2 separate regions of the Homo sapiens genome follow, and region 2 is reported to be linked to region 1. Evidence: microRNA targets listed by miRTarBase, many of them from high-throughput screens and not tested one by one. Region 1 holds a microRNA gene; the other region holds the end of a gene's coding sequence.

What was found. The annotated mature microRNA hsa-miR-5682 reads GUAGCACCUUGCAGGAUAAGGU and lies in region 1 at 10,638-10,659, opposite strand. An mRNA with a match to its seed (bases 2 to 7 or 8) in the 3' UTR can be bound and repressed. Matches are read on the target gene's strand: a 7mer-m8 pairs with bases 2 to 8, a 7mer-A1 pairs with bases 2 to 7 and ends in A, and an 8mer does both.
Region 2: miRTarBase lists CASP8 as a target of hsa-miR-5682. Seed matches in the 3' UTR shown: 7mer-m8 at 917-923.

Annotation. Positions count from the first base shown.
Region 1 is chr3:121,043,794-121,060,342 of GRCh38, reverse strand. It overlaps MIR5682 (microRNA 5682), which reads right to left and starts at 10,703; the gene lies at 10,628-10,703. It overlaps STXBP5L (syntaxin binding protein 5L), which reads right to left. Exons shown (of 27, transcript NM_001308330.2): 5 at 14,808-14,908.
Region 2 is chr2:201,285,680-201,302,228 of GRCh38, forward strand. CASP8 (caspase 8) reads left to right here. Exons shown (of 9, transcript NM_001372051.1): 9 at 780-2,030. The coding sequence ends at 915. FLACC1 (flagellum associated containing coiled-coil domains 1) reads right to left here. Exons shown (of 15, transcript NM_001127391.3): 12 at 13,559-13,621; 13 at 4,017-4,106; 14 at 3,778-3,887; 15 at 2,592-3,102. The coding sequence ends at 2,976. Among named protein-coding and RNA genes, the nearest start is that of CASP8, 33 kb to the left of the region's middle. RefSeq lists an enhancer at 2,751-2,895 and a cis regulatory region at 2,823.

The DNA of each region.
Region 1 (16,549 bases):
TTATCCACCACAATCAAGTCAGCTTCATCCCTGGGAAGCAAGGCCGGTTCAACATATGCAAATCAATAAACATAATCCATCACATAAACAGAAAAAATGACAGAAACCACATGATTACCTCCAAAGATGCAGAAAAGGCCTTTGACAAAATTCAACACCATTTCATGCTAAAAACACTCAGTAAACTAGGTACTGATGGAACGTATCTCAAAATAATAAGAGCTATTTATGACAAACCCACAGCCAATATCATACTGAATGGGCAAAAACTGGAAGCATTCCCTTTCAAAACTAGCATAAGACAAGGATGCCCTCTCTCACCACTCCTATTCAACATAGTATTGGAAGTTCTAGCCAGGGCAATCAGGCAAGCAAAAGAAATATAGGGTATTCAAATAGGAAGAGAGGAAATCAAATTGTCTTTGTTTGCAGATGACATGATTATATATTTAGAAAACCCCATAGTCTCAGCCCCAAATCTCCTTAAGCTGATAAGCAACTTAAGCAAAGTCTCAGAATACAAAATCAATGTGCAAAAATTACAAGCATTCCTAGACACCAATAATAGACAAACAGCCAAATCATGAGTGAATTCCCATTCACCATTGCTACTAACAGAATAAAATACGTAGGAATACAGCTTACAAGGGATGTGAAGGACCTCTTCGAGGAGAGCTACAAACCACTGCTCAAGGAAATAAGAGAGGACACAAACAAACGGAAAAACATTCCATGCTCATGGATAGGAAGAATCAGTATGGTGAAAATGGCCATACTGACCAAAGTAATTTGTAGATTCAATGCTATCCCCATCAAGCTACCACTGACATTCTTCACAGAATTAGAAAAAAAACTACTTTAAATTTCATATAGAACCAAACAAGAACCCACATAGCCACGACAATCCTAAGCAAAAAGAACAAAGCTGGAGGCACCATGCTACCTGACTTCAAGCTATACTACAAGGCTACAGTAATGAAAACACCATGGTACTGGTAACAAAACAGATATACAGACCTATGGAACACAACAGAGGCCTCAGAAATAACACCACACATCTACAACCATCTGATCTTTGACAAACCTGACTAAAACAAGCAATAAGGAAAGGATTCTCTATTTAATAAATGGTGTTGGGAAAACTGGCTAGCCACATCCTGAAAACTGAAACTGGACCCCTTCCTTACACCTTATACAAAGATTAACTCAAGATGGATTGAAGACTTAAACGTAAGACCTAAAATCATAAAAACTCTAGAAGAAAATCTAGGCAATACTGTTCAGGACATAGGCATGGGCAAAGACTTCATGACTAAAACACCAAAAGCAATGGAAACAAAAGGCAAAATTGACAAATGGGATCTAATTAAACTAAAGAGATTCTGCACAGCAAAAGAAACTATCATCAGAGTGAACAGGCAACCCACAGAATGGGAGAACATTTTTTGCAATCTATCCATTTGACAAAGGCTAATATCCAGAATCTACAAAGAACTTAAACAAATTTACAAGAAAAAAACAACCCCATCAAAAAGTGGGCAAAGGATATGAACAGACACTCCTCAAAAGAAGACATTTATGTAGCCAACAAACATATGAAAAACAGCTCATCATCACTGGTCATTAGAGAAATGCAAATCAAAACCACAATGAGATACCATCTCACGCCAGTTAGAATGGCTATGATTAAAAAGTCAGGAAACAACAGATGCTGGAGAGGATTTGGAGAAATAGGAACACTTTTACACTGTTGGTGGGAGTGTAAATTAGTTCAGCCATTGTGGAAGAGACTGTGGCGATTCTTCAAGGATCTAGAATCAGAAATACCATTTGACCCAGCCATCCCATTACTGGGTATATAACCAAAGGATTAGAAATTATTCTACTATAAAGACACATGCACATGCATGCTTTTTGCAGCACTGTTCACAGTAGCAAAGACTTGCAACCAACCCAAATGCCCATCAGTGATAGACTGGATAAAGTAAATGTGGCACATGTACACCATGGACTCCTATGCAGCCATAGAAAAGGATTAGTTCATGTCTTTTGCAGGGACATGGATGAAGCTGGAAACCACGATTCTCAGCAAACTAACACAAGAACAGAAAACCAAACACCGCATATTCTCACTCATAAGTGGGAGGCGAACAATGAGAACACATGGACACAGGGAGGGGAATATCACACACTGGTCCTGTTGGGTGATGGGGGTGTAGGGGAGGGATAGCATTACAAGAAATACCTAATGTAGATGACGGATTGATGAGTGCAGCAAACCACCATGGCACTTGTATACCTATGTAACAAACCTGCACTTTCTGCACATGTATCCCAAAACTTTAAGTATAATAAAAAATTTTTAAAAAACAACAACAACAAAAAACATAAATAAAAGAGCAAGGTGTTATGCTACTTGGGAGACAGAAAACAATATGATGAGTCAGGCTATAGTATGTATTTGGAAGATAGAGTGAGAGACAGAGAATGAGAGATAGAAAAAAGAGATATAAAAAGAATTTAAAAATTTTTATTATTATACCAAATTATTGATATATTTTCTAAAGAAATGTTATAAAAAATAGAAATGCAAAAGTTAAGTTTAAGAAAGAGAACTAAAATAGAATGGTTAATCAAATTGCAGAATATCCATTAAATAGAATAGTACATAATAATGAAAATAAATAAACTACAGCTAAATGCCACATGGATGGAACTCATAAATACAGTGCTGAGCAAAGGAATCCAAAAGCAAAGAACTATATATATATTATTCCATTTTTATATGTGTCAAAAACAGGCAAAATTAATCTATAGAGTTGGAAATTAGGATACCTGGGGGTAAGTGACTGGAAGGTAACATAGGGGAGTTTCTATGAATCTAGTAATTTTCTGTATCTTGATTTAGGTGTTTGTTACACAACGGCAAAGTTATTTCAAGGTGTACACTTAAGATTTAAACAGTTTCCTGATGATTCAGTAAAATTTACAAACAAACAAAGAAATAGGGAAAGTCTATATAAAGAGTGATCCTTTAGAATATACTATAGAGGGAAAAAAGCAAGACACAAAACTGTATAACATGCTACATTAACATGTAGCATTAATTTTGCCTGTTTTTTGACGCATACAAAAATGGAATAATATATATGAAGTTTTCTTTCGGCTTCTTTTGCTCAGCACTGTATTTATGAGTTTCATCCATGTTGCATTTAACTGTAGTTTATTTATTTTCATTGTTATGTAGCATGTTATGCAGTTTTCTGTCTTGCTTTCTTCCTTCTTTATAATATATTCTAAAGATCTTGCTAATTTGTTTAACAATATATTGTGTGTAATAAAATATATATAAATATATATGTATATTTTGTCTCGCTTTTTTCCCTCTTTATAATATATTATAAAGACCTTGCTAATTTGTTTAAAGGTCTTGCTAATTTGTTTAACAAAAAAATATGATATTCTCTCTATATATGATATATGTAAAAATATATGGTTTTCTATTTGGCTTATGTACATATAAGAAAGAAAATTATGTTACATATTATATTTGCTTATATATGTATGTAATGAACGTCTATAAAGAAAAAACAAATTAATTACACTGTTTAGCTCTGCTGAGGGGAAGTAAGTAAGTGTCCAGGGGACAGGAATAGAAGAAAGATCCTTTATTGCATACACTGTTGTACCTTTTGAATGTCAAACCCAGTAAATATATTAGTTATGCAACACTTTGAAAAGAATCAAAGCCAGTTCAAATTGCCTTTATAAAATATTTTAAATGTGGGTTATAAATTGGGTCTGCAAAAGCCAATTCAGATGGATCCAGTTTGCCAGAGATTTCATAAATTATGGAGTTTTCAACAAAATATTGCTTCCTTCCAGTTTAGTTAATAGTTTTCAGAAATTCTCTGATAGTAAGTAGCAGAACACTAGAGTAAGAAAAATTAAATATACATAATAAGTACAGATAATTTAAGGGTCTGTATATCGTAGCCTACATTTGAATTTCACTCAAAAGCCATATAAAACAACTCTATGCTTTCTCCAGTATTACATAAATTTATGATTGTGATAGCAAGGACTGCTATGCCTAAAATATGAATGTTTTATTTTATTCATTACTCAGATCATGCATTACAAAAATCAAGACATTTTTTCTTCCCTATTTAGGTTTAAAATCGTATTTGTAAGAAGTCCAAGGATCATCCACCAGAAAGGCTTTAATATATAAGCCTTACCAGATGCAAAGGTTCATACTTGTAATCCTAATACTTTGTAAGGCCAAGGCAGGAGGATAGCTTGAGCCCAGTAGTTCAAGTCTAGCCTAGGCAACACAGTGAGACCCCAGGCCAAGCACAGTGGCTCATGCCTCTAATCCCAGCACTTTGGGAGGCTAAGGTGGGAGGATTGCTTGAGCCCAGGAATTTGAAATCAGCCTGGGCAACATGGAGAGAATCTGTTTCTACAAAAAAAAAAAAAAAATTAACATTAGTCAGGCATCATAGTGCACACCTCAGGAGGCTAAGGTGGGAGGACTGCTGTAGCCCAGGAATTCAAGGTTGTGTGAGCCAAGCTGATGCTACTGTACTCCAGCTTAGGTGACAGAGTGAGACCCTGTCTCAAAAAAAGCATAGTAAGAAACCATCTCTACTTTAAAAAAAAAATAGCTGGGTATGGTAGCACATGCCCATAGTCCCAGCACTAAGGAGGCTGAGGCGGGAGGATTGCTTGAGCCCAGGAGTTTGAGGCTGCAGTGAGCTAGGATCACACCATTGCACTCCAGCCTGGGAGACAGAGCAGGACCCTGTCTCCAATAATAATACTCCAATAATAGTAATAATAATAATGAAAGCCTATTACTTAACAATCTAAGGCTGGATTCTGCCTTCAAAAATTGTAAGACTAAAGACTGTAGGTGCCCTAATAAAATAAGCTAAAATTTATAGTATAAATTTATAAACTGAAACACATTTAGCATAAACATAAGAGTACTTAGAAAATTTACAGAATTAAACGGCTAATATCAGATGTTTTGGAGAATGTCCCAAAAGATGCTTGGTTAAATTCTCCTATAGGACCTGAACCTCCCATTCACCATACTTCGATAGATAATTTTATCTCCTCCAATAAGTTATGATCATAATGAATATTCTCATGTTACATGACAATATGTATGTATCTTTCTTAAGAGATAAATATCACATTTATCTTTAATGTAAGCATTAAAACATTTTCAAACTTCCTGTGATTAAAACTTATCTCAAATCTGTCAGCTTGCTCTTTTATGTTTCTACCAATTAATCTAACTCAGTTGAGATAATAAAATCACTATTGGAAATCATCACCACTAATCAATTCTTCCTCCCAAAAAGTCCATAAAAGGGGCCAGAACATTGCCTTCAACATTCCAATTGTGAGGGGAAATAAAAACACTCTGTCCATCCACATAAAAGTATACAGTCAGATCTATTCAAAGTATTAGAAGAAAAATCTTACAAACAGAGAGAAAGATAAAATCAATATGGTGATCTAAATAGGTTAATATTTTACTGGTAAAGAAAAAGAAACAGTAAAACAACTCTTTTTAAAATTTTATTATTATTATACTTTAAGTTTTACGGTACATGTGCACAATGTGCAGGTTTGTTACATATGTATACATATGCCATGTTGGTGTGCTGCACCCATTAACTCGTCATTTACCATTAGGTATATCTCCTAATGCTATCCCTCCCCCCTCCCCCCACCCCACAACAGGCCCTGGAGTGTGATGTTCCCCTTCCTGTGTCCATGTGTTCTCATTGTTCAATTCCCACCTGTGAATGAGAACATGCGGTGTTTGCTTTCTTGTCCTTGTGATAGTTTGCTGAGATGATGGTTTCCAGTTTAATCCATGTCCCTACAAAGGACATGAACTCATCCTTTTTATGGCTGCATAGTATTCCATGGTGTATATGTGCCACATTTTCTTCATCCAGTCTATCGTTGTTGGACATTTGGGTTGGTTCCAAGTCTTTGCTATTGTGAATAGTGCCACAATAAACATTCGTGCACATGTGTCTTTATAGCAGCATGATTTATAATCCTTTGGGTATATACCCAGTAATGGGATGGCTGGGTCAAATGGTATTTCTAGTTCTAGATCCCTGAGGAATCGCCACACTGACTTCCACAATGGTTGAACTAGATTACAGTCCCACCAACCGTGTAAAAGTGTTCCTATTTCTCCACATCCTCTCCAGCACCTGTTGTTTCCTGACTTTTTAATGATTGCCATTCTAACGGGTGTGAGATGGTATCTCATTGTGGTTTTGATTTGCATTTCTCTGATGGCCAGTGATGATGAGCATTTTTTCATGTGTCTTTTGGCTGCATAAATGTCTTCTTTTGAGAAGTGTCTGTTCATATCCTTTGCCCACTTTTTGATGGGGTTGTTTGTTTTTTTTTCTTGTAAATTTGTTTGAGTTCATTGTAGATTCTGGATATTAGCCCTTTGTCAGATGAGTAGGTTGCGAAAATTTTCTCCCATTTTGTAGGTTGCCTGTTCACTCTGATGGTAGTTTCTTTTGCTGTGCAGAAGCTCTTTAGTTTAATTAGATGCCATTTGTCAATTTTGGCTTTTGTTGTCATTGCTTTTGGTGCTTTAGACATGAAGTCCTTGCCCATGCCTATGTCCTGAATGGTATTGCCTAGGTTTTCTTCTAGGGTTTTTATGGTTTTAGGTCTAACATTTAAGTCTTTAATCCATCTTGAATTAATTTTTGTATAAGGTGTAAGGGATCCAAATTCAGCTTTCTACACATGTCTAGCCAGTTTTCCCAGCACCATTTATTAAATAGGGAATCCTTTCCCCATTTCTTGTTTTTGTCAGGTTTGGCAAAGATCAGATGGTTGTAGATATGCAGAATTATTTCTGAGGGCTCTGTTCTGTTCCATTGATCTATATCTCTGTTTTGGTACCAGTACCATGCTGTTTTGGTTACTGTAGCCTTGTAGTATAGTTTGAAATCAGGGAGTGTGATGCCTCCGACTTTGTTCTTTTGGCTTAGGATTGACTTGGCAATGGGGGATTTTTTTGGCTCCATATGAACTTTAAAGTAGTTTTTTCCAATTCTGTGAAGAAAGCCATTGGTAGTTTGATGGGGATGGCATTGAATCTATAAATTATCTTGGGCAATATGGCCATTTTCACGATATTGATTCTTCCTACCCATGAGCATGGAATGTTCTTCCATTTGTTTGTATCCTCTATTTCCTTGAGCAGTGGTTTGTAGTTCTCCTTGAAGAGGTCCTTCACGTCCCTGTAAGGTGGATTCCAAGGTATTTTATTCTCTTTGAAGCAATTGTGAATGGGAGTTCACTCATGATTTGGCTCTCTGTTTGTCTGTTATTTGTGTATAAGAATGCTTGTGATTTTTGTACATTGATTTTGCATCCTGAGACTTTGCTGAAGTTGCTTATCAGCTTAAGGAGATTTTGGGCTGAGACAATGGGGTTTTCTAGATACACAATCATGTCATCTGCAAACAGGGACAATTTGACTTTCTCTTTTCCTAATTGAATACCCTTTATTTCCTTCTCCTGCCTGATTGCCCTGGCCAGAACTTCCAACACTATGTTGAATAGGAGTGGTGAGAGAGGGCATCCCTGTCTTGTGCCAGTTTTCAAAGGGAATGCTTCCAGTTTTTGCCCATTCAATATGATATTGACTGTGGGTTTGTCATAGATAGCTCTTATTATTTTGAGATATGTCCCATCAATACCTAATTTGTTGAGAGTTTTTAGCATGAAGGGTTGTTGAATTTTGTCAAAGGCCTTTTATGCATCTATTGAGATAATCATGTGGTTTTTGCCTTTGGTTCTGTTTATATGCTGGATTACATTTATTGATTTGCGTATATTGAACCAGCCTTCCATCCCAGGGATGAAGCCCACTTGATCATGGTGGATAAGCTTTTTGATGTGCTGCTGGATTCTGTTTGCCAGTATTTTATTGAGGATTTTTGCATCGATGTTCATCAGGGATATTGGTCTTAAATTCTCTTTTTTGGTTATGTCTCTGCCAGGCTTTGGTATCAAAGCCTGGATGCCAGGATGATGCGGGCCTCATAAAATGAGTTAGGGAGGATTCCCTCTTTTTCTATTGATTGGAATAGTTTCAGAAGGAATGGTACCAGCTCCTCCTTGTACCTCGGGTAGAATTCGGTTGTGAATCCATCTGGTCCTGGACTGTTTTTGGTTGGTAAGCTATTGATTATTGCCACAATTTCAGAACCTCTTATTGGTCTATTCAGATATTCAACGTCTCCCTGGTTTAGTCTTGGGAGGGTGTATGTGTCCAGGAATTTATCCATTTCTTCTAGATTTTCTAGTTTATTTCCATAGAGGTGTTTGTAATATTCTCTGATGGTATTTCTGTGGGATCGGTGGTGATATCCCCTTTATCATTTTTTATTGCATCTATTTGATTCTTCTCTCTTTTCTTCTTTACTAGTCTTGCTAGCGGTCTATCAATTTTGTTGATCTTTTTGAAAAACCAGCTCCTGGCTTCATTAATTTTTTGAAGGGTTTTTTTGTGTCTCTATTTCCTTCAGTTCTGCTCTGATTTTAGTTATTTCTTGCCTTCTGCTAGCTTTTGAATGTGTTTCCTCTTGCTTCTCTAGTTCTATTAATTTTGATGTTAGGGTGTGAATTTTGGATCTTTCCTGCTTTCTCTTGTGGGCATTTAGTGCTATAAATTTCCCTCTACACACTGCTTTGAATGTGTCCCAGAGATTCTGGTATGTTGTGTCTTTGTTTTCGTTGGTTTCAAAGAACATCTTTATTTCTGTCTTCTTTTCGTCACGTACCCAGTAGTCATTCAGGAGCAGGTTGTTCAGTTTCCATGTAGTTGAGCGGTTTTGAGTGAGTTTCTTAATCCTGACTTCTAGTTTGATTGCACTGTTGTCTGAGAGACAGTTTGTTATAATTTCTGTTCTTTTACATTTGCTGAGGAGAGCTTTACTTCCAACTATGTGGTCAATTTTGGAATAGGTGTGGTGTGGTGCTGAAAAAAAATGTATATTCTGTTGATTTGGGGTGGAGAGTTCTGTAGATGTCTATTAGGTCTGCTTGGTGCAGAGCTGAGTACAATTCCTGGGTATCCTTGTTAACTTTCTGTCTCGTTGATCTGTCTAATGTTGACAGTGGGGTGTTAAAGTCTCCCATTATTATTGTGTGGGAGTCTAAGTCTCTTTGTAGGTCACTCAGGACTTCCTTTATGAATCTGGGTGCTCCTGTATTGGGTGCATATATATTTAGGATAGTTAGCTCTTCTTGTTGAATTGATCCCTTTACCATTATGTAATGGCCTTCTTTTTCTCTTTTGATCTTTGTTGGTTTAAAGTCTGTTTTATCAGAGACTAGGATTGCAACCCCTGCTTTTTTTTGTTTTCCATTTGCTTGGTAGATCTTCCTCCATCCCTTTATTTTGAGCCTATGTGTGTCTCTGCACATGAGATGGGTTTCCTGAATACAGCACACTGATAGGTCTTGACTCTTTATCCAATTTGCCAGTCTGTGTCTTTTAATTGGAGCATTTAGTCCATTTATATTGAAAGTTAATATTGTTATGTGTGTATTTGGTCCTGTCATTATGATGTTAGCTGGTTATTTTGCTCGTTAGTTGATGCAGTTTCTTCCTAGCCTTGATGGTCTTTACATTTTGGCATATTTTTGCAGTGGCTGGTACCGGTTGTTCCTTTCCATGTTTAGTGCTTCCTTCAGGAGCTCTTTTAGGGCAGGCCTGGTGGTGACAAAATCTCTCAGCATTTGCTTGTCTGTAAAGTATTTTATTTCTCCTTCAATTATGAAGCTTAGTTTGGCTGGATATGAAATTCTGGGTTGAAAATTCTTTTCTTTAAGAATGTTGAATATTGGCCCCCACTCTCTTCTGAACAACTCTTTACTGATCTTAAAGTTTTTTGATATCCTTGAAATTTCTGCTACATTACTTATTTTAAACTAAAATAACCAGAATTAGGACTAAAGAAATAAGTCCTATCTAGTTTCAACAAATTTCTAAAATATAAATTCCTTTCCTCTTAAAAAAAAAGACTAAGTTTAGAGATTTGGCGTGAGATAGCTGAGTAGAAGTGGGTAATAAGCACCACTCTCATGGAGAGAAGAAACAGTGGTGAATGGACACTAGCTCTTCAACCAGAACATCCAGGTGGAAACATGGGGATTTATCAGGGAAACAGCATCACCCACAGTGAACAGAGAAGAGCAAGACAGGACAATTGCCCACCCAGAAGTGGCATGGAGCCAGAGGAGTCCTCACATCACAGGGAACAGTGAGTGAGTGAGAGTCCCCAGGGATTCACACTTCTGTCATGGACCTTTGCATCCTTGGACTCAGGATCAGGAGATTTCTCATGATCCCTGCAACCAGGGCTTCCAGACAAACATGCAAAGAGTTATGTGGAGTCTTGGCAGAGCCATCACTCAGGTACTCACAGACTCCCAGGAGTGCTGGATCCCCAGGCACCTCAACACCAGCAGATGCAGCTCTAGCAATGGAGGAGGCCAGGCTCCCTCACGTCTCCAGGAAAGGGGCTGAATCCATGTGGCTGAAGAGTAACTAGGCCCAGTAGACCTTATCCTGCAAGGTGCTACAGGCCTCGTCTCTGCAGCACCTTGCAGGATAAGACCCATGGGCCTGGGACACTAGTGAGACCACCACAGCCCTACCAGAATTCTCGGATCAGGAGCAGCTCTGTGCTTTTCTGGGACAAGCTTCTAGAGGGAGAGGCAGACCACATCCACAACCCTCCCTCCTGTTTGCCCTCAGGCTGGGGAGTGTACTCAGTGATTAGGGGCAATCGTAGACACTCAGTAAAAGGCAGCCACCTTAAGGAAAAGTAGCCAGATTGTTTTACACAGGAGCCCCCACCCCTGCTACTTCTCACTGAGCAAGGCCTCCTGACCTAGAACCTCAACCACCCCACACTGGACTCTTAGGCCACTACCAGCTCTCCACTTCCCTGGGACAGAGCTCTCAGTGGGAAAGGCAGGCCACCATGTTTGTTGCCCTACAACCTTCCCCACTGATGCCCTCAAGATCAGGAGGGTACACAGTGATTAGGGACTACCATGAACCCCTAGCACAGTGCAGCCACCTTACAGAAAAGCAGCAGACTGTTTTCTACATGGGTCCCCAACCCTGCTATGGTTCTCTGGGCAGTGTCTCCCTACCGGGGTCTCTAGCCACCCCCTACCTAGGCTCTCAGGCTAGTAGCAGCTCTGTGCTTTTCTGGGACAGAGCTCACAGAAGGAGCAAGCAGGCCACCATTTTTGCTGCCCTGCAGCCCTTGCTCCTGTTGCCCTTGGGATTGAGAGGACATATAGTGGTTGGGGACCGATACAAACCTCTAGCACAACACAGCCACTTTATGGAAAAGCAGCCAGACTTGTCCACATGCCTCCACTACTCTTCACTGGGCAGTGCCTCTTGACCTGGGCTCCCAGCACCTGTAGTCCCAGCTACTCAGGAGGCTGAGGCAGGATAATCGCTCAAACCAGGGAGGCGGAGGTTGCAGTGAGCCAAGATTGTGCCACTGCACTCCAGCCTGGGCAATAGAGCAAGACTCTGTCTTAAAAAAAAAAAAAAAGACTCTAACTGATCTGATAGAGTGGAAAACACACTACAAGAATTTCATAATGTAATTGCAAGTATTAACAGAAGAATAGACCAAGTTCAGGAAAGAATCTGAGAGCTCAATGACTGGTTCTCTGAACTAACTCAGTCAGAGAAAGAAAATGAACAAAACACTCAAAAAATAAAGGATTATGTAAAGAGACCAAATCTCCAATTCATTAGTATCCCTGCAAGAGATAAGGAGAGAGCAAGCAACTTGGAAAATATATTTCAGAATATCACCCATGAAAACGTCCCCAGCCTCACTAGAGAGGCCAAAATACAAATTCAGGAAATGCAGAGAACCAGCGTGAGATACTACACAAAAAGACCATGGCCAAGACACATAATTAGATTCTCCAAGGCTGAAAGAAAAGGGAAAAAGTGAAAGGCAACTGGAGAGAAGGGGCATGTCACCTACAAAGGAAACCCCATCAGGCTAACAGAGGACCTTTCAATAGAAACCTTACAAGCCAGAAGAAATTGGGGGTCTATATTCAGCCTTACTAAATAAAACAATTTCCAAGCAAGAATTTCATATCCAGCCAAACTAAGCTTCATAAACCTAGGAGAAATTAGATTCTTTCCCGATAAGCAAATGCTAAGGGAATTTATGACCACCAGACCTGCCTTACAAGAGGTCCTGAAAGGAGTGCTAAATATGGAAAGCAAAGACTGTTATAAGCTACTACAAAAAGACACTTAAGTATACAAACTGTTGACCCTATAAAGCAACCACACAAACAAGTATGCACAATAGCCAGCTAGAAACATGATGAAAGGATCAAATCCACACACATAAATATTAAACTTGAATGTAAATTGGCTAAATGCTCCAATTAAAAGGCACAGAGTGGCAAGCTGTATAAAGAAGCAGGACTGAATGGTATGCTGTCTTCAAGAGACCCATCTCACATGTAATGACACCCATAGGCTCAAAGTAAAGGGATAGAGGAAAATCTACCAAGCAAATGGCAGTCAGAAAAAAGCAGGGGTTGTTATTTCAGACAAAACATACTTTAAGCTAACAAAGATCAAAAAAGACAAGGAAGGACATTACGTAATGGTAAAGGGTTCAATTCAACAAGAATGCCTAACTATCCTAAATATATATGCACCCAACACAGGAGTACCCGGATTCATAAAGCGAGTTCTTAGAGACCTACAAAGAGACTTAGATTCCCACACAATAATAGTGGGAGACTTCAACACCCTACTGACAGTTTTTAGATAGACCATCCAGTCAGAAAATTAACAAAGATTTTCAGGATCTAAACTTAACACTTCACCAAATGGAACTATTAGACATCTACAAAATGCCCTACCCAAAAGGAACAGAATATACCATCTTCTTATCTGTACATAGCACATACTCTAAAATCAACCACACAATTGGACATAAAACAATCCTCAGAAAATCTAAAAAAAATGAAACCATACCAACCACACTCTCAGGCCATAATGCAATAAAAATAAAAATCAATACTAAGAAAATCGCTCAAAACCATACAATTGGATGGAAATTAAACAACCTGGTCCTGAATGACTTTTGGGTAAACAATGAAATTATGGCAGACATCAAGAAATTCTCTGGAACTACTGAGAACCAAGAAAACATACCAGAATCTCTAGGACACAGCTAAAGTAGTGCTAAGAGGAAAGTTTATAGTGCTAAAGGTCCACATCAAAAATTCATAAAATCTCAAATTAGCAACCTAACATTACACCTAGAGGAACTAGAGAAACAATACAAAACAAACCCAAAGCTAGCAAAAGACAAGAAATAACTAAAATCAGAGCTGAAATGAAGGAAACTAAGAGGCAAAAAAACCATACAAAAGATCAATGAGTACAAGAGTTGGTTTTTTGACATAAGAAATATGATAGACCACTAGCTAGGCTAATAAAGAGAAAAAGAGAGAAGATCCAAATAAACAATCATAAATGCCAAAAAAGACATTACCACCAACCCCACAGAAATATAAAAAACCCTCAGAGACTGCTATGAACACCTCTATGCACATAGACTAGAAAACCTAAAATAAATGAATACATTCCTGGAAACATACAAACTCCCAAGATTGAGCCAGGGAGAAATTGAATCCCTGGACAGACCAATAAAGAGTTCCAAAATTAAATCAGTAATAAAAAGCCTACCAACCATAAAGGACCCAGGACAAGAATGATTCACAGCCAAATTCCACCAGATGCATAAAGAATAGCTTGTACCATTCTAACTGAAACTACTCCAAAAAATTGAGGAGGAGGAACTCCTCTCCAACTGATTCTATGAGGCCAGCTTCATCCTGATACCAAAACCTGGCAGAAATACAACAAAAAAATCTTCAGGCCAATATCCTTGATGAACACAGATGTAAAAATTCTCAACAAAATACTAGCAAACTGAATCCTGCAGCACGTGAAAAAGCTAATCAACCACACTCAAGCAGGCTTTATCCCAGGATGCAAGGTTGGTTCAATAATCACAAATACATAAATGCGATCTACTACATAAACAGAACTGAAAACAAAAACCACATGACTATCTCAATAGATGCAGAAAAGTCTTCTGGTACAATTCGATGTCCTTCATGTTAAAACCCCTCAACAAACTAGACATTAAAGGAACATATTTCAAAATAAGAAGAGCCATCTATGACAAACTCACAGCCAACATCATACTGAATGGGCAAAACCTGGAAGCATTCCCCTTGAAAACCAAAACAAGACAAGGATGCCATCTCTCACCATTCCTAGTCAACATAGACTGGAAGTCCTAGGCAGAGCAATCATGCAAGAGAAAGAAATAAAAGGCCTGTAAATATTAATAGGAAGAAAGGAAGTCAAATTATCTCTCTTTGAAGATAATATGAGTCTACACATAGAAAACCCCATAATCTCAGCCCAAAAGCTCCTTAAGCTAATAAACACTGCATTAGTAGGTGACTGGATCTATATCAATTACGCATTTTCTACAAAAAAGAAAACACTATGAAAGTAAGCATAAACATTAAATTATTTCTAGCTGTTGAGATTATGAGGAAAAAAGCCTGTCAAGTTAACAAAAACTTGCTCAGGAAATAATTTTGTTGTACATTAAGAAATTGTTTAATTCATAGGTTCTTACCGTTCCCGGTTAAATTTAAGAGAATGGAGTATGGCTGGCCTTTTTTGTCTAAGGTTCCACAAATGAAGTGTATCATCTGAACTTGCACTGACCAAGGCACCCTAGAACAAAAAGAAGATAAAGTAAGTGTGTGATTTACTTAATTTAGGGTTTTTTTAATCACAAACAAGCTAATTTACTCAATGTTTACTACCTGAAGAGTTACTTTTGTTATCTCAGAAATATAAGGAAGGATAGGTGCATAAACTTCAATCAGGAAGGGTAAGAATGCTGAAAGTAGAAGAGGCAACTGACCCACTGCATTTCAACGGTCAGGGAGACTAGCTTAAGGAATATTTATTTACCAATAGAGAGGATTAATTATTATAGCACTGTTATGGCCATTAAAGGTTTTTCTTTGGGAAAAAATAGTTTAGGGATGGTTTTTGTTTCTACTGTTTACACATATACTATATAGCCTTACAGAGAAGAAAATATTCAATGCAGTCTTACAAAATTGAATACAGGTCATATAAAAATTCTCCTTTGCAAGAATTTTCTGTATATTTGGAAAGCGTATATTCTTCCTAAAAAGTATATTTGGTATAATTTAATTTGCTTCTTATAGTCCAAGAAGCTTCATCAATTATAAAGGAAATATCCATAATAAAAGAAAACATTTCTCCAACTAGAATTTAGTATAACTATAAAATTATACTAAGATTCCTTTTATACAGCACCACCAAATACAAATGAATCCTATTTCGCATACAATAGGATATTTTCTACCTCTTAATGTGGCAGAAAGCATGTGGACAGATAATAACTGTTTGTATGACTTTGTATATATGCTTAAACTATTTATTTGACTGGGTTAAATCAGATCATTTTAAAATGTTAGAACTTTTACCATAATGACAGCTAACCAGCTGAAAATGTCGATGCTTACCCATTCACAGATCCTAAATCCAGAGCATTAAATGTGTTCTCTAAGAGTGATCTTTCAGAACCTTGGTTGTCCAGAGATACCTAAAAGGCTTTTTATATTTTCCAAAGTACTTTGTTAGAAGTAATCTCTCATAGTTTACAGTATCAATCACAGATATCCCATTTAGATGCTAGGAAGAACGATATTGAAATTGCTAGCATTTATTTCTTCTTTAGGAATTAGAAGAGAGAAGATAGGAATCTAAATGCCCTTCTATAATAATTTCTAAGCCAAAAAAATGCTCATGTATCCTATGATAGGTCTCTTTATATTTGGTACCTGTGATTTTAGTCTCAGAGAGGAATGGCTTTATAAAAATAGAAACATAATCAAAGATCATATCCAAGAAAATATTTAGAAATTTGTATGATTTGCACATTTATATCTAATTACATACATACATGTTCAAAGATGTATATATTGATATATACATCTTAACATGAACTCAGATAATTTCCTTCAATGAAATAGGAGGTATTCTATATATAAGCCTTGATAATTTTTGTGTTTGTTTGCCTGTTTTATTTGTATACTGTACTTATGCTTCCTATAAACAAACGAGAAATTTATTAGGATTCCTTGGAAGCATTTGATGAGTTACACTTGATTTTTTTGAATACAGTATACTGGTCTCATTTCTCAGAGAGGTGGAAGTTCACCTGAGATGGGGTGAGGATAGAACATGATATGTAACAACAATAAAACATTCTCTACAAGAGATAGTTACATGCTATACAGAAGATAAAACATGCCAAAGGCAATGTTATTAAAGTAG
Region 2 (16,549 bases), not on the chromosome of region 1:
TAGGCCAAAACATGACTGAGCCAATTCAACTAGTTTTGGAAATCTTCCAAGAAGGCAGTAACCCAATTCAATGTTTAAACATCCTCCAACTCTGTCAAAAGTTCTATAATAGCAAACCATCCTCAAAACCTCTTGGTGCATTATGGGAGATAAATAGCAGGTTCCTTCTAGCCCTGTATTTCATGTTTTGAGTATATGAAGAGTGAGAATTTCCCGTAACTTAGATCATGAATCTAACTTAGATTTCGTAACTTAGATCATGAATCCTGCAAGGTTTCCGCGGCTAGCTACCAAGGTAGAAGAAGAGGTTGCCTAACAAAAATGCTAAGAGATCCTGGTGAGAAGAAGGTGGGAGTAGCTGCAGGAGACGTTATACTTTCACTTGCCTTAAGTTTAATTGCATCAAAGATGAATCCGCAGATGCGATGTCAATTCGAGGCAGAGAGTATTGGGGGGCATTGAAGCAATGGGGAGCCAAGTAACGTGGAGAAGAGTGAGAGACACACAGGTCAGGAGAGAAAGAAACCAACTCTAATACTGACACCGAGGTTTCTGATGGTCAAAAGAGTTCCTGAATAAACCAAAAGTAAGTTATTAAGCTCTGAGACAACCCATTTACCAGGAAAGCTGGGGTAGGTCTTGGTTTCGCACCTTATTGTTTCAAATGACTGATATTTTGAGAGAAAGAACTACAGAACTATCTCTGAGCACAGCAGAGGAGACAGTTCATCAGTTGCTTTCCCCCACAGACAGTCACAATATTATGTGATGTATTTCAGAGGCGATGATATTCTCACCATCCTGACTGAAGTGAACTATGAAGTAAGCAACAAGGATGACAAGAAAAACATGGGGAAACAGATGCCTCAGCCTACTTTCACACTAAGAAAAAAACTTGTCTTCCCTTCTGATTGATGGTGCTATTTTGTTTGTTTTGTTTTGTTTTGTTTTTTTGAGACAGAATCTCGCTCTGTCGCCCAGGCTGGAGTGCAGTGGCGTGATCTCGGCTCACCGCAAGCTCCGCCTCCCGGGTTCAGGCCATTCTCCTGCCTCAGCCTCCCGAGTAGCTGGGACTACAGGGGCCCGCCACCACACCTGGCTAATTTTTTAAAAATATTTTTAGTAGAGACAGGGTTTCACTGTGTTAGCCAGGGTGGTCTTGATCTCCTGACCTCGTGATCCACCCACCTCGGCCTCCCAAAGTGCTGGGATTACAGGCGTGAGCCACCGCGCCTGGCCGATGGTACTATTTAGATATAACACTATGTTTATTTACTAATTTTCTAGATTTTCTACTTTATTAATTGTTTTGCACTTTTTTATAAGAGCTAAAGTTAAATAGGATATTAACAACAATAACACTGTCTCCTTTCTCTTATGCTTAAGGCTTTGGGAATGTTTTTAGCTGGTGGCAATAAATACCAGACACGTACAAAATCCAGCTATGAATATAGAGGGCTTATGATTCAGATTGTTATCTATCAACTATAAGCCCACTGTTAATATTCTATTAACTTTAATTCTCTTTCAAAGCTAAATTCCACACTACCACATTAAAAAAATTAGAAAGTAGCCACGTATGGTGGCTCATGTCTATAATCCCAGCACTTTGGGAGGTTGAGGTGGGAGGATTGCTTGAACCCAAGAGGTCAAGGCTGCAGTGAGCCATGTTCACACCGCTGCACTCAAGCTTGGGTGACAGAACAAGACCCCGTCTCAAAAAAAATTTTTTTTTTAATAAAACAAAATTTGTTTGAAATCTTTTAAAAATTCAAATGATTTTTACAAGTTTTAAATAAGCTCTCCCCAAACTTGCTTTATGCCTTCTTATTGCTTTTATGATATATATATGCTTGGCTAACTATATTTGCTTTTTGCTAACAATGCTCTGGGGTCTTTTTATGCATTTGCATTTGCTCTTTCATCTCTGCTTGGATTATTTTAAATCATTAGGAATTAAGTTATCTTTAAAATTTAAGTATCTTTTTTCAAAAACATTTTTTAATAGAATAAAATATAATTTGATCTTATTGCTCCTTGGAGATTTTTTGTGTTTGGTTTTGGTTTCTGCCAATGACATCTCACAGGTGGAAAACATCTGGACTACAGACATGTTCTACTTGAGTCTCCCATGATCGGCACACACAGTTGTATTTTTAAAATTTGTTGTCAATGTTTAAAAATTAGGAGATATCACATAAAAACCAGAATAACTTCTTTTAAAAAATCATACTATCTGACAATATTGACCTCATGCTTTTGCATGGCAAAGGTCTGAGAAGCACCTTCTTCAGATGGGACAGTGCTCTGTGGGTCACTCTTCCCCATCCGCTGTGCCCCAGCCCTGCCCAAGCCCCTCTACTGAGGCTGCTGTTGGTTGCCACTTATCACTGTGCTTGGGCAATTGTTTTCCTTATGTCTAGCCCACTTCACTTATTTATGTTGCCTGCACTGTGGGTGTCTGAATTCTGGTGATGGTCCAGAGGAGGTGGTAAGAATCATCAGAAACCCTTCCTAAGTCATAGGTTAGGGAACATGATTGAGAGGTAGGGAAGTAGGGGGCATGGGTGTGAGAGAAAAATATTTTAGAGTAAAATCAACACATCATCTTTTTTTGCTACCTAAATGCCCCAGGGGACAAAGGTACACCTCCCAAATATAGTAAAAGTTCAATATGAAGAAGGCCTTCAAATCAGTTTCTTTCTAACGAAATACGTCAAGGTAGAAGAAAAATAGTACAAAACTCAGAGAAAGCTCAGCTCCCAGTATGGAGAGCATCATTTTTCAGTGAAGAGTCCGTGATAAGCTGTGAAATTCAGATGCGAATTCAAACATTTTCAGACATTCAGAGAGTCAGAGCAACCCAAGAACTAAACTCATTATATGCATTTTCTCAAGAAAACCCTCCCAGGAGTTTCCTGGGCCTACAGAAATGGTGTGCCAACCATCTTCAACAATGCAGAGCAACTTTTTGTTTATGATTCTTGTCCTTTCTTGCTACCATCTTGCACAGTGTCAGAATCATCCTTAGAAACAGTAATAGAGGCCAATCTCCCAGAACATCCTTCACAAATTTCTTCATTCTTAGAAATTATCTTTTGCCTGTAAAAAGAAAGGAAAGATGTATCAATGTCAACTCAAAAGCTAGAAAGGGTATAGGATATTTGGAGTGCAGGGAGAGAAATGTGCCTTCGTTCCTTCACCACAGCAGTCTCTCACTCATTACTTGCAGTGGTTTTGAATTTAGTGAGGTATGGTGTTCAGGTGACTAAAGTCCTATACGAGGAATTTTCTACTAAATCAATGCAATAAATAACTTTCTTCTATTAAAGTATTGACCAAAATTTATTTTAATGATTTAAGATGCAGCTTCAGGTAACAGTACACCTTCTGATCCAAAGGTGATTTCCATAGGAACCAGAAGCAGCTGCATGTAATGGCAAGACCATCAGACTCCCAGGGGAGATGGATTTAAAAACCACCCTCAGTCATAGAACTGAGCAAACTCAGAAACTGGAAGACAAATGTCCTGTGTTGTTTTGCATAGAAACAAGGACACAGGTGAATGGGAGAAGTATAGACACATCTCCACTCCACCTCAAGTGAACTATCTGGCTTTGTGTCACTGGCCTAGAGTGACATACCTCCCTCCCGAAAACACCTGTGCCTTGACATAACTAGGGAGCAGTTGGTCTATCTTCCTAACCCATTCCTCACTCAAACTCCTTCCCACTCCTAAAGAGAACTCAGCTATGTCTTTTTCAGCAGCAGCCGCACTTCAGATGAATGTTCTCTTCCGTCAGGATCTGTATGGTGTGCTTATACTTTTCTTCAGTTTCAGCAAACTTGGTTTGAAGCATTTTCTCCAGATTTCCCACTATAGCTTTCTGAAAGACATACATTTTAATAGCCATCTTCCCCAACCCAGAGCCATCCAGGGCAGAGCTATATGGCAGAGCTGGATGGAGACCTGGGTTCTTCCCCCAACCCCCATCCCCACTCCAGTAGGGACTCACCTCTTTCTGGAGTTCCAACTGGGTATAGTAGAGGTTTGTGTTCAGTGACTCTAGGATAAGGGCTTGTGCATGCAATTCTTCCTGCATGACCTGCATAAGAAGAAGCTGTTGCAGGACATCATGCCAATGTCTATTTATTTGGTCTCTTCTCCAGGGCACCTGGACTATGATGAAAGGGAGCAACCTGAGCTACTTTTGCATCACTCATGGCCACTCACACCCTGTCAGTCCTGCCTCCTCTCTGTCTCACCCATCTATATCCTTCTCTTCAGCCTCACCAGAGCTCATATGAATGGTTCTAATGGCAATCAGTTATTCATTCACTAAGCAAGTCTTTATTAAATACCTACTACCGATTCCAATTATATGACACTCTGGAAAAGGCAAAACTATAGAGAGAGAAAAAAGATTAGTGGTTTCTAGGGATTTGGAGGGGAAGGGAGGGATGAATAGGTGGGATAGAGGGCACTTTTAGAGCAGTGAAACTATTCTGTATGACACTATAATGGTGGATACATGACATGACATATTAGGCAAAACCCACAGAATGTACAACACAAAGAGAGAACCCTCATGTAAACTATGGACTTTAGTTAATAAGAATGCATCCACATTGGCTCATCAATTGCAACTAATGTGCCATCCCAATGCAAGATACTAATAATAAAGGAAACTAGTGGTGGGGTAGGGTGGGGTGGGGTAGTATATGGGAACTCTCTGTACTTTCTGCTCAATTTTTCTGTAAACCTAAAACTGCTCTAAAAAGTAGCTTCTTGAAACAAACACACAAACTTCCACTAAAGAATGAATAGAAGCCTGTGCAAAGGTCCTTAGAATGCAAAATGCTCAGGGGTGGAGCCAAGACAGCCGAATAGGAACAGCTCCAGTCTACAGCTCCCAGCGTGAGCGATGCAGAAGACGTATGATTTCTGCATTTCCAACTGAGGTATCGTGTTCATCTCACTGGGGATTGTCAGACAGTGGGTGCAGTACAGTGGGTGCAGTGCACTGAGCATGAGCCGAAGCAGGGCGAGGCATCACATCATCCGGGAAGTGCAAGGGGTCAGGGAATTCCCTTTCCTAGCCAAGGAAAGGGGTGACAGATGGCACCTGGAAAATCAGGTCACTCCCACCCTAATACTGCATTTTCCAACAGTCTTAGCAAACGGCACACCAGAAGATTGTATCCCATGCCTGGCTCATAAGGTCCTACGCCCACGGAGCCTTGCTCATTGCTAGCACAGCAGTCTGAGATCAAACTGCGAGGTGGCAGTGAGGCTGGTGGAGGGGCGCCCACCATTGCTGAGGATTGAGTAGGTAAACAAAGTGGCCAGGAAGCTCGAACTGGGTGGAGCCCACCGCAGCTCAAGGAGGCCTGCCTGCCTCTGTAGACTCCACCTCTGGGGGCAGGCATAACCAAACAAAAGGCAGCAGAAACCTCTGCAGACTTAAATGTCCCTGTCTGACAGCTTGAAGAGAGTAATGGTTCTCCCAGCACGCAGCTTGAGATCTGAGAATGGACAGACTGCCTCCTCAAGTGGGTCCCTGACCCCTGAGTAGCCTAACTGGGAGGCACCCCCCAGTAGGGGCAGACTGACACATCACACGGCTGGGTACTCCTCTGAGACAAAACTTTCAGAGGAACAATCAGACAGCAACATTTGCTGTTCACCAATATCTGCTGTTCTGCAGCCTCCGCTGCTGATACCCAGGCAAACAGGGTCTAGAGTGGACCTCCAGCAAACTCCAACAGACCTGCAGCTGAGGGTCCTGACTGTTAGAAGGAAAACTAACAAACAGAAAGGATATCCACACCAAAACCCCATCTGTACGTCACTGTCATCAAAGACCAAAGGTAGATAAAACCACAAAGATGGGGAAAAAACAGAGCAGAAAAACTGAAAATTCTAAAAATCAGAGTGCCTCTCCTCCTCCAAAGGAATGCAGCTCCTCGCCAGCAACAGAACAAAGCTGGATGGAGAATGACTTTGACGAGTTGAGAGAAGAAGGCTTCAGATGATCAAACTACTCCGAGCTAAAGGAGAAAGTTCGAACTCATGGCCAAGAAGTTAAAAACCTTGAAAAAAGATTAGACGAATGGCTAACTAGAATAACCAATGCAGAGAAGTCCTTAAAGGACCTGATGGAGCTGAAAACCATGGCACAAGAAGTATGTGACAAATGCACAAGCCTCAGTAGCCGATTCGATCAACTGGAAGAAAGGGTATCAGTGATGGAAGATCAAATGAATGAAATGAAGCAAGAAGAGAAGTTTAGAAAAAAAAGAATAAGAAGAAATGAACAAAGCCTCCAAGAAATATGGGACTATGTGAAAAGACCAAATCTACGTCTGATTGGTGTACCTGAAAGTGACAGGGAGAATGGAACCAAGTTGGAAAACACTCTGCAGGATATTATCCAGGAGAACTTCCCCAACCGAGCAAGGCAGGCCAACAATCAGATTCAGGAAATACAGAGAACAGCATAAAGATACTCCTCGAGAAGAGCAACTCCAAGACACATAACTGTCAGATTCACCAAAATTGAAATGAAGGAAAAAATGTTAAGGGCAGCCAGAGAGAAAGCTCGGGTTACCCACAAAGGGAAGCCCATCAGACTAACAGCAGATCTGTCAGCAGAAACTCTACAAGCCAGAAGAGAGTGAGGGCCAATATTCAACATTCTTAAAGAAAAGAATTTTCAACCCAGAATTTCATATCCAGTCAAACTAAGCTTCATGATTGAAGGAGAAATAAAATACTTTACAGACAAGCAAATGCTGAGAGATTTGGTCACACCAGGCCTGCCTTAAAAGAGCTCCTGAAGGAAACACTAAACATGGAAAGGAACAACCGGTACCAGCCACTGCAAAAACATGTCAAATTGTAAAGACCATCGAGGCTAGGAAGAAACTGCATCAACTAACGAGCAAAATAACCAGCTAACATCAGAATGACAGGATCAAATTCACACATAACAATATTAACCTTAAATGTAAATGGGCTAAATGCTCCAATTAAAAGACACAGACTGGCAAATTGGATAGTCAAGACCCATCAGTGTGCTGTATTCAGGAAACCCACCTTACATGCAGAGACACACAGAGGCTCAAAATAAAGGGATGGAGGAAGATCTACCAAGCAAATGGAAAACAAAAAAAGGCAGGGGTTGCAATACTAGTCTCTGATAAAACAGACTTTCAATTAACAAAGATCAAAAGAGACAAAGAAGGCCATTATATAATGGTAAAGGGATTAATTCAACAAGAAGAGCTAACTATCCTAAATATATATGCACCCAATACAGGAGCAGCCAGATTCATAAAGTAAGTCCTTAGAGACCTACAAAAAGACTTAGACTCCCACACAATAATAATGGGAGACTTTAACACCCCACTGTCAACATTAGACAGCTCCACGAGACAGAAAGTTAACAAGGATATCCAGGAATTGAACTCAGCTCTGCACCAAGCAGACCTAATAGACATCTACAGAACTCTCCACCCCAAATGAACAGAATATACATTCTTCTCAGCACCACATCGCACATATTCCAAAATTGACCACATAGTTGGAAGTAAAGCACTCCTCAGCAAATGTAAAAGAACAGAAATCACAACAAACCGTCTCTCAGACCACAGTGCAATCAAACTAGAACTCAAGATTAAGAAACTCACTCAAAACCACACAACTACATGGAAACTGAACAACCTGCTCCTGAATGACTACTGGGTACATAATGAAATGAAGGCAGAAATAAAGATGTTCTTCAAAACCAATGAGAACAAAGACACAACATACCAGAATCTCTGGGACACATTTAAAGCAGTGTGTAGGGGAAATTTATGGCACTAAATGCCCACAAGAGAAAGCAGGAAAGATCTAAAATTGACACCCTAACATCACAATTAAAAGAACTAGAGAAGCAAGAGCAAACACATTCAAAAGCTAGCAGAAGGCAAGAAATAACTAAGATCAGAGCAGAACTGAAGGAGATAGAGACACAAAAAACCCTTCAAAAAATCAATGAATCCAGGAGCTGGTTTTTTGAAAAGATCAACAAAATTAATAGAATGCTAGCAAGACTAATAAAGAAGAAAAGAGAGAAGAATCAAATAGACGCAAAAAAAAACGATAAAGGGGATATCACCACCGATCCCACAGAACTACAAACTACCATCAGAGAGTACTATAAACACCTCTATGCAAATAAACTAGAAAATCTAGAAGAAATGGATAAATTCCTGGACACATACACACTCCCAAGACTAAACCAGGAAGAAGTTGAATCCCTGAATAGACCAATAACAGGCTCTGAAATTGAGGCAATAATTAATAGCTTACTAACCAAAAAAAGTCCAGGACCAGATGGATTCACAGCCGAATTCTACCAGAGGTACAAGGAGGAGCTGGTACCATTCCTTTGAAACTATTGCAATCAATAGAAAAAGAGGGAATCCTCCCTAACTCATTTTATGAGGCCAGCATCATCCTGATACCAAAGCCTGGCAGAGACACAACAAAAAAAGAGAATTTTAGACCAATATCCCTGATGAACATCGATGCAAAAATCCTCAATAAAATACTGGCAAACCAAATATAGCAGCACATCAAAAAGCTTATCCACCATGATCAAGTGGGCTTCATCCCTGGGATGCAAGGCTGGTTCAACATACGCAAATCAATAAATGTAATCCAGCATATAAACCGAACCAATGACAAAAACCACATGATTATCTCAATAGATGCAGAAAAGGCCTTCAACAAAATTCGAAAACCGTTCATGCTAAAAACTCTCAATAAATTAGGTATTGGTGGGACGAATCTCAAAATAATAAGAGCTATCTATGACAAACCCACAGCCAATATCATACTGAATGGGCAAAAACTGGAAGCATTCCCTTTGAAAACTGGCAAAAGACAGGGATGCCCTCTCTCACCACTCCCATTCAACATAGTGTTGGAAGTTCTGGCCAGGGCAATGAGGCAGGAGAAGGAAATAAAGGGTATTCAATTAGGAAAAGAGGAAGTCAAATTGTCCCTGTTTGCAGATGACATGATTGTATATCTAGAAAACCCCATCATCTCTGCCCAAAATCTCCTTAAGCTGATAAGCAACTTCAGCAAAGTCTCAGGATACAAAATCAATGTGCAAAAATCACAAGCATTCCTATACACCAATAACAGACAAACAGAGAGCCAAATCATGAGTGAACTCCCATTCACAATTGCTTCAAAGAGAATAAAATACCTAGGAATCCAACTCACAAGGGATGTGAAGGACCTCTTCGTTGACCACTGCTCAACGAAATAAAAGAGGATACAAACAAATGGAAGAACATTCCATGCTCATGGATAGGAAGAATCAACATCGTGAAAATGGCCATAATGCTCAAGGTAATTTATAGATTCAATGCCATCCCCATCAAGCTACCAATGATTTTCTTCACAGAATTGGAAAAAACTACTTTAAAGTTCATCTGGAACCAAAAAAGAGCCCGCATTGCCAAGTCAATCCTAAGCCAAAGAACAAAGCTGGAGGCATCTCGCTACCTGACTTCAAACTATACTACAAGTCTACAGTAACCAAAACAGCATGGTACTGGTACCAAAACAGAGATATAGACCAATGGAACAGAACAGAGCCCTCAGAAATAATGCCATATATCTACACTATCTGATCTTTGACAAATCTGACAAAAACAAGAAATGGGGAAAGGATTCCTTATTTAATAAATGGTGCTTGGAAAACTGGCTAGTCATATGTAGAAAGCTGAAACTGGATCCCTTCCTTACACCTTATACAAAAATTAATTCAAGATGGATTAAAGACTTAAATGTTAGACCTAAAACCATAAAAACCCTAGAAGAAAATCTAGGCAATACCATTCAGGACATAGGCATGGGCAAGGACTTCATGTCTAAAACACCAAAAGCAATGGCAACAAAAGCCTAAATTGGCAAATGGGATCTAATTAAACTAAAGAGCTTTTGCACAGCAAAAGAAACTACCATCAGAGTGAACAAGCAACCTACAGAATGAGAGAAAATTTTTGCAACCTACTCATCTGACAAAGGGTTAATATTCCAGAATCTACAATGAACTCAAACAAATTTACAAGAAAAAAACAAACAACCCCATGAACAAGTGGGCAAAGGATATGAACAGACACTTCTCAAAAGAAGACATTTATGCAGCCAAAAGACACATGAAAAAATGTTCATCATCACTGGCCATCAGAGAAATGCAAATCAAACCACAATGAGATACCATCTCACACCAGTTAGAATGGCGATCATTAAAAAGTCAGGAAACAACAGGTGCTGGAGAGGATGTGGAGAAACAGGAACACTTTTACACTGTTGGTGGGACTGTAAACTAGTTCAACCATTGTGGAAGTCAGTGTGGCGATTCCTCAGGGATCTAGAACTAGAAATCCCATTTGGCCCAGCCATCCCATTACTGGGTATATACCCAAAGGATTATAAATCATGCTGCTATAAAGACACATGCACACGTATGTTTATTGCGGCACTACTCACAATAGCAAAGACTTGGAACCAACCCAAATGTCGAACAATGATAGACTGGATTAAGAAAATGTGGCACATATATACCATGGAATACTATGCAGCCATAAAAAATGATGAGCTCATGTCCTTGGTAGGGACATGGATGAAGCTGGAAACCATCATTCTGAGCAAACTATGGCAAGGACAAAAAACCAAACACCACATGTTCTTGCTCAGAGGTGGGAATTGAACAATGAGAACACATGGACACAGGAAGGGGAACATCACACACCGGGGCCTGTTGTGGGGTGGGGGGAGGGGGGAGGGATAGCATTAGGAGATATACCTAATGTTAAATGACGAGTTACTGGGTGCAGCACACCAACATGGCACATGTATACATATGTAACAAACCTGTACATTATGCACATGTACCCTAAAACTTACAGTATAATAAAAAAAATGCAAAATTCTCATTCTGTTTGAGGACCCAAAGGAACACCAATATGGCTGGAATAGAGATAGTAAGGATAGAGGGCCATGGTGAGGAAATACAGGGAAGTCTGGTGGCACCTGAGAGGACAAGGTAACCTAAGAACAATGGGGACCTACTGAAGGGTTTTAAGCAGAGAAGTGAATGCACGTATCTTACTGTTTACATTATGCTCCATGGGGATGGATTGGAAGGGCAAGAGGGAAAGCAACGGAACTAAGGAGGAGAATACTACAGTCGTGTAGGTGAGAAATAATGGACTAGGGTAAGGTGACAACAGAGTTGGAGGGACGTGGATGAATTTGGATTATGTTATAGAGGATTGGCTGAGGCTGCTGGGTTGAATTTGGGAGAGTGAAAGGAAAGAAGAAATCAAGGATGACTTCAGGTCTAGGCTTAGAACAGCTGAGGGAGTTGACAATTTGGGGGCTAAATCTCTGGTGGAAAATTGAGAGTGTGGAACTGGGCATGTTAATTTTGAGGTGTCTGTATGTCACCTATGTTGAAATGTCAAATGGGCAGTTGGATGTACAAGCCTGGAGCTCAGGAGAGAGGCAAGGCTGGAGGTATCAAACCAAGTTATCAGTACAGAGATGGCTTTTACATCTGTGTGAACAGATGAGCTCACCAAAGGAGAAACGGGAGATAAAGAAGATAAGTGGGGCCTGGGAACAAGCCTCAAAATACTCCAGGACTTAGAAAGTAGGTGGGAGAACAGTGGGGTGCCATTGAAGGGTTTTAAGCAGAGTTCTAGTTCTAGTAAAGGAGATTGAGAAGGTGTGACCAATGAGGTGAAGGAAACACCAGAAGCCCATGAAAGCTAAGACAGGTGAATGTTGCAAGGAGAGAATGATCAATCGCACCTGATACTGCTCATGTCCAGTGAGGTGAAGCATTCCTTGGATTTGGCAACTCGGAATTTACTTGTGATTTTAACAAGAACAGTTTCCATGGCTGGGATTGGAGCAGAAGTCAGGTTGAGGTGTAAAGGGGAGGTGACCCTTCTAATAGGTTCTGCCTCCCATCATTTTGCCTCTTCAGATTCTCCTTCACATTGCTGCCACAGTTATTTTCCCAAATGATACTCTCTCCTCAAAAACCTCCAGTGGCATCCCATTTGGAGAAAAGCAAGTGTTGGGCAGGGAGCGGAGCCCTTAAATCGGGCACCTTCTGAGAAGGTGGCATTTGAATAAAGAACAGGAGGAGGAAAGGAAGTTAGTCATGTGGATATCCGGGAAAGAGCTTTTCAGGAAGAGAGAACATCAAAGACCCCCAGGTAGGAACATCCTGGCCTGTTAAGGGAACAGCAAGGAGGCAAGTGCCTCTGGGGTGGAGTGATGTAGGGAAGAAATAGAAAGAGACAAGGTTAGAGGAAGGAAACATCAGCAAGGAGCAGGTGGAACAATCCCCAGGGCCAACACAAGGCTGGGAATAGTTCATGGTCCCACCAGGCAGAGTAGAAAATCCTTCTCATACAGAGGGTGTGGTGTCAAGTACTCAGAGGGTATTACCTCAATAGTGGGGAAAATTAGTTCCACACTAAAGACTGCTTTAGTTCTGCCCAACGAAGCTTAAAAAGCAAGGCTTGAAAGGATCAAACTGTTTCCAGGCAACTTAACTGCATCCCAGGGCAAAGCTTAAGAATATCTAAAGGAATATAAAAATATTCAGCACCCAACAAGGTAAACACCAAAATGACTGACATCCAAGCCAAACTTACCAGGCATGCAAACAAGGAAATATGACCATAAATGAGGAGAAAAATCAATGAAGAGAAACAGGCCCAGACATGACACAAATGACAGAATTCGTAGACAAGCTCATGAAAATAGTTATTATAATACACTGGGTATATCTTCCTCCAAAGCCCATTTCTTGAACTTGTAGGACACCACAGTCTGTTTGCCTTTCCATAATGCTGAAGCCCTGCCTGGGCTCTAAGATAGAATTCATTTACAATGCCTTTATAATGACTAATGTTTTCTCAAACGTGTCCATTCTGGATCCAAGTCAAATTTTCAGTGATGGAAGAATCACACATCACCTTGTGGATTTGAACGGCTCCTCTTCAGTTGTCTCCCACAGACTGCCATAATTTGCCCCAGAATAGAGTCCCTGAGGAAGTTATCATGTGTGAGGTACATTCAGAGCTTAAGGAGGGGCTTGGTGACAGAGTTTCAAAGGAGACAGTTTTATACTTTTCAGAGCTCAAAGGGAAGAACTTGGTGTTTTATAACTGAAAGATCATTTGTGGTTTGAACCTTGCTAGAAATGAAAGTCATTCAACATTGAAGATCACATAGTATATTGCTGATCTATTTGTTCAAATCAGACTTTAAAAAGACCCACTGGCTTTATTTTACAGATAATTTCAAAAATTCTTTTTAACTTATTGAATCCAGTAAACTCAGCTTTAGGTCTTCCATTTCTTATTGGCTTTGGGGAAATTATCATTGATTCCATTATACTGACAGCTTGTTATTTTATTGGTGTATTTGTAATATACCAAGTCCACAGGAAAGGATGAAAAAGCTTACCTCTTTGGTTTTTCTCAGCTCTTCTAATTGCAAGGTGTCACTTTGATGTTGTTTCAAGAGCTCCTAAAAACAATTTTATTGGGAAAAGGTTAGCACTGTGGTTCTGGCACATCTTCTAGGGAGTTAAGAAAGCCAGACTAGGATTCAGGAATATAATATTCACCAAAGCTTAGACACTGCTATAATGAAGCACACATTATAAACTAGTGACATGACTTGTTGAAGTTAATGAAAATCTTAATTATGTTCAACCTTATCTCACTGACAAATATTAAAAGAAATTATATTTTCATCAAAAGCTTTTCTTAAGTCAGTGGATAGATTCAATACTCTTAAGAATTAATCTCGCCACAGATTGATCTTTATATTCAATGAAATCCCAGTCAAAATATCAGCAAACTTCCTTGATAAGCTAATTCTAAATTGACAAGCTAGTTCTAACATTTATGTAAAAATACAAAGCATGTGGAAAGGCAAAATAATCTTGAAAAACAATAGCAAAGCTAGATAACCTTTGCTACCCGATTTCAAACTTCAGTAGTCAAGACAATGTGTTGTTGACCTAAGTATGGAAAAATAGTCAAACAGAACGGAGAGTCCTAACACCCCAAATACAGCAAAGACACTATATTAGTCTGATCTCACATTTCTATGAAGAACTACCTGAGAGACTGGGTAATTTATAAAGAAAAGAGGTTTAGGGGGAGTTTCCAAGATGGCCAAATAGGAACACCTCCAGTCTATAGCTCCCAGCATGAGTGATGCAGAAGACAGGTGATTTCTGCATTTCCAACTGAGGTACCAGGTTCATCTCACTGGGGCTTGTCAGACAGTGGGTGCAGGACAGTGGGTGCAGGCCACGGACCGGGAGCCGAAACAGGGTGGGGCACCGCCTCACCTGGGAAGCGCGAGGGGTCAGATAATTCCCTTTCCTAGCCAAGGGAAGCCGTGACAGACGGCACCTGGAAAATCGGGTCACTCCCACCCTAATACTGTGCTTTTCCAACAGTCTTAGCAAATGGCACACCAGGAGATTATATCCCATGCATGGCTGGGAGGGTCCCACGCCCACGGAGCTTTGCTCACTGCTAGCACAGCAGTCTGAGATTGAATGGCAAGGCAGCAGTGAGGCTGGGGGATGGGCGCCTGCTATTGCTGAAGCTTGAGTAGGTAAACAAAGCGGCTGGAAAGCTCGAATTGGGTGGAGCCCACCACAGCTCAAGGAGGCCTGCCTGCCTCTGTAGATTCCACTTCTGGGGGCAGGGCATAGCTCAACAAAAGGCAGCAGAAACTTCTGCAGACTTAAACATCCCTGTCTGACAGCTTTGAAGAGAGTAGTGGTTCTGCCAGCATGGAGTCTGAGATCTGAGAATGGACAGACTGCCTCCTCAAGTGGGTCCCTGACCCCCGAGAAGCCTAACTGGGAGGCACCGCCCAGTAGGGGCCAACTGACAACTCATACAGCTGGGTGCCCCTCTGAGATGAAGCTTTCAGAGAAACGATCAGGCAGCAACATTTGCTGTTCTGCAGTATCTGCAGTTCTACAGCCTCTCCTGGTGATACCCAGGCAAACAGGGTCTGGAGTGGACCTCCAGCAAACTCCAACAGACCTGCAGCTGAGGGTCCTGACTGTTAGAAGGAAAACTAACAAACAGAAAGGACATCCACACCAAAACCTCATCTGTACATCACCATCATCAAACACCAAAGGTAGATAAAACCACAAAGATGGGGGGAAACCAGAGCAGAATAGCTGAAAATTTTAAAAATCAGAGCGACTCTTCTCCTCCAAAGGAATGCAGCTCCTCACCAGCAATGGAACAAAGCTGGACAGAGAATGAATTGACGAGTTGAGAGAAGAAGGCTTCAGATGATCAGTAATAACAAGCTTCTCCAAGTTAAAGGAGGATGTTCGAACCCATCACAAACAAGCTAAAAACCTTGAAAAAAGATTGGATGAATGACTAACTAGAAAAAACAGTGTAGAGAAGTCCTTAAATGACCTGATGGAGCTGAAAATCATGGCACAAGAACTATGTGATGCACGCACAAGCTTCAGTAGCTGATTCGATCAAGTGGAAGAAAGGGTATCAGTGATTGAAGATCAAATGAATGAAATGAAGCAAGAAGAGAAGTTTAGAGAAAAAAGAGTAAAAAGAAATGAACAAAGCCTCCAAGAAATATGGGACTATGTGAAAAGACCAAATCTACGTCTGATTGGTGTACCTGAAAGTGACAGGGAGAATGGAACCAAGTTGGAAAACACTCTGCAGGATATTATCCAGGAGAACTTCCCCAACCTAGCAAGGCAGGCCAACATTCAAATTCAGGAAATACAGAGAATGCCACAAAGATACTCCTCGAGAAGAGCAACTCCAAGACACATAATTGTCAGATTCACCAAAGTTGAAATGAAGGAAAAAATGTTAAGGGCAGCCAGAGAGAAAGGTTGGGTTACCCACAAAGGGAAGCCCATCAGACTAACAGTGGATCTCTCGGCAGAAACTCTATCTACAAGCCAGAAGAGAGTGGGGGCCAATATTCAACATTCTTAAAGAAAAGAATTTTCAACCCAGGATTTCATATCCAGCTAAACTAAGCTTCATAAGTGAAGGAGACATAAAATCCTTTACAGAGAAGCAAATTCTGAGAGATTTTGTCACCACCAGGCCTGTCTTTCAAGAGCTCCTGAAGGAAGCACTAAACATGGAAAGGAACAACCGGTACCAGCCACTGCAAAAACATGCCAAATTGTAAAGTCCATCAATGCCAGGAAGAAACTGCATCAACTAATGAACAGATAACCAGGTAACATCATATCGAGAGGATCAAATTCACACATAACAATATTAACCTTAAATGTAAATGGGCTAAATGCTCCAATTAAAAGACACAGACTGGCAAATTGGATAGTCAAGACCCACCAGTGTGCTGTATGCAGGAGACCCATCTCACGTGCAGAGACACACAGAGGCTCAAAATAAAAGGATG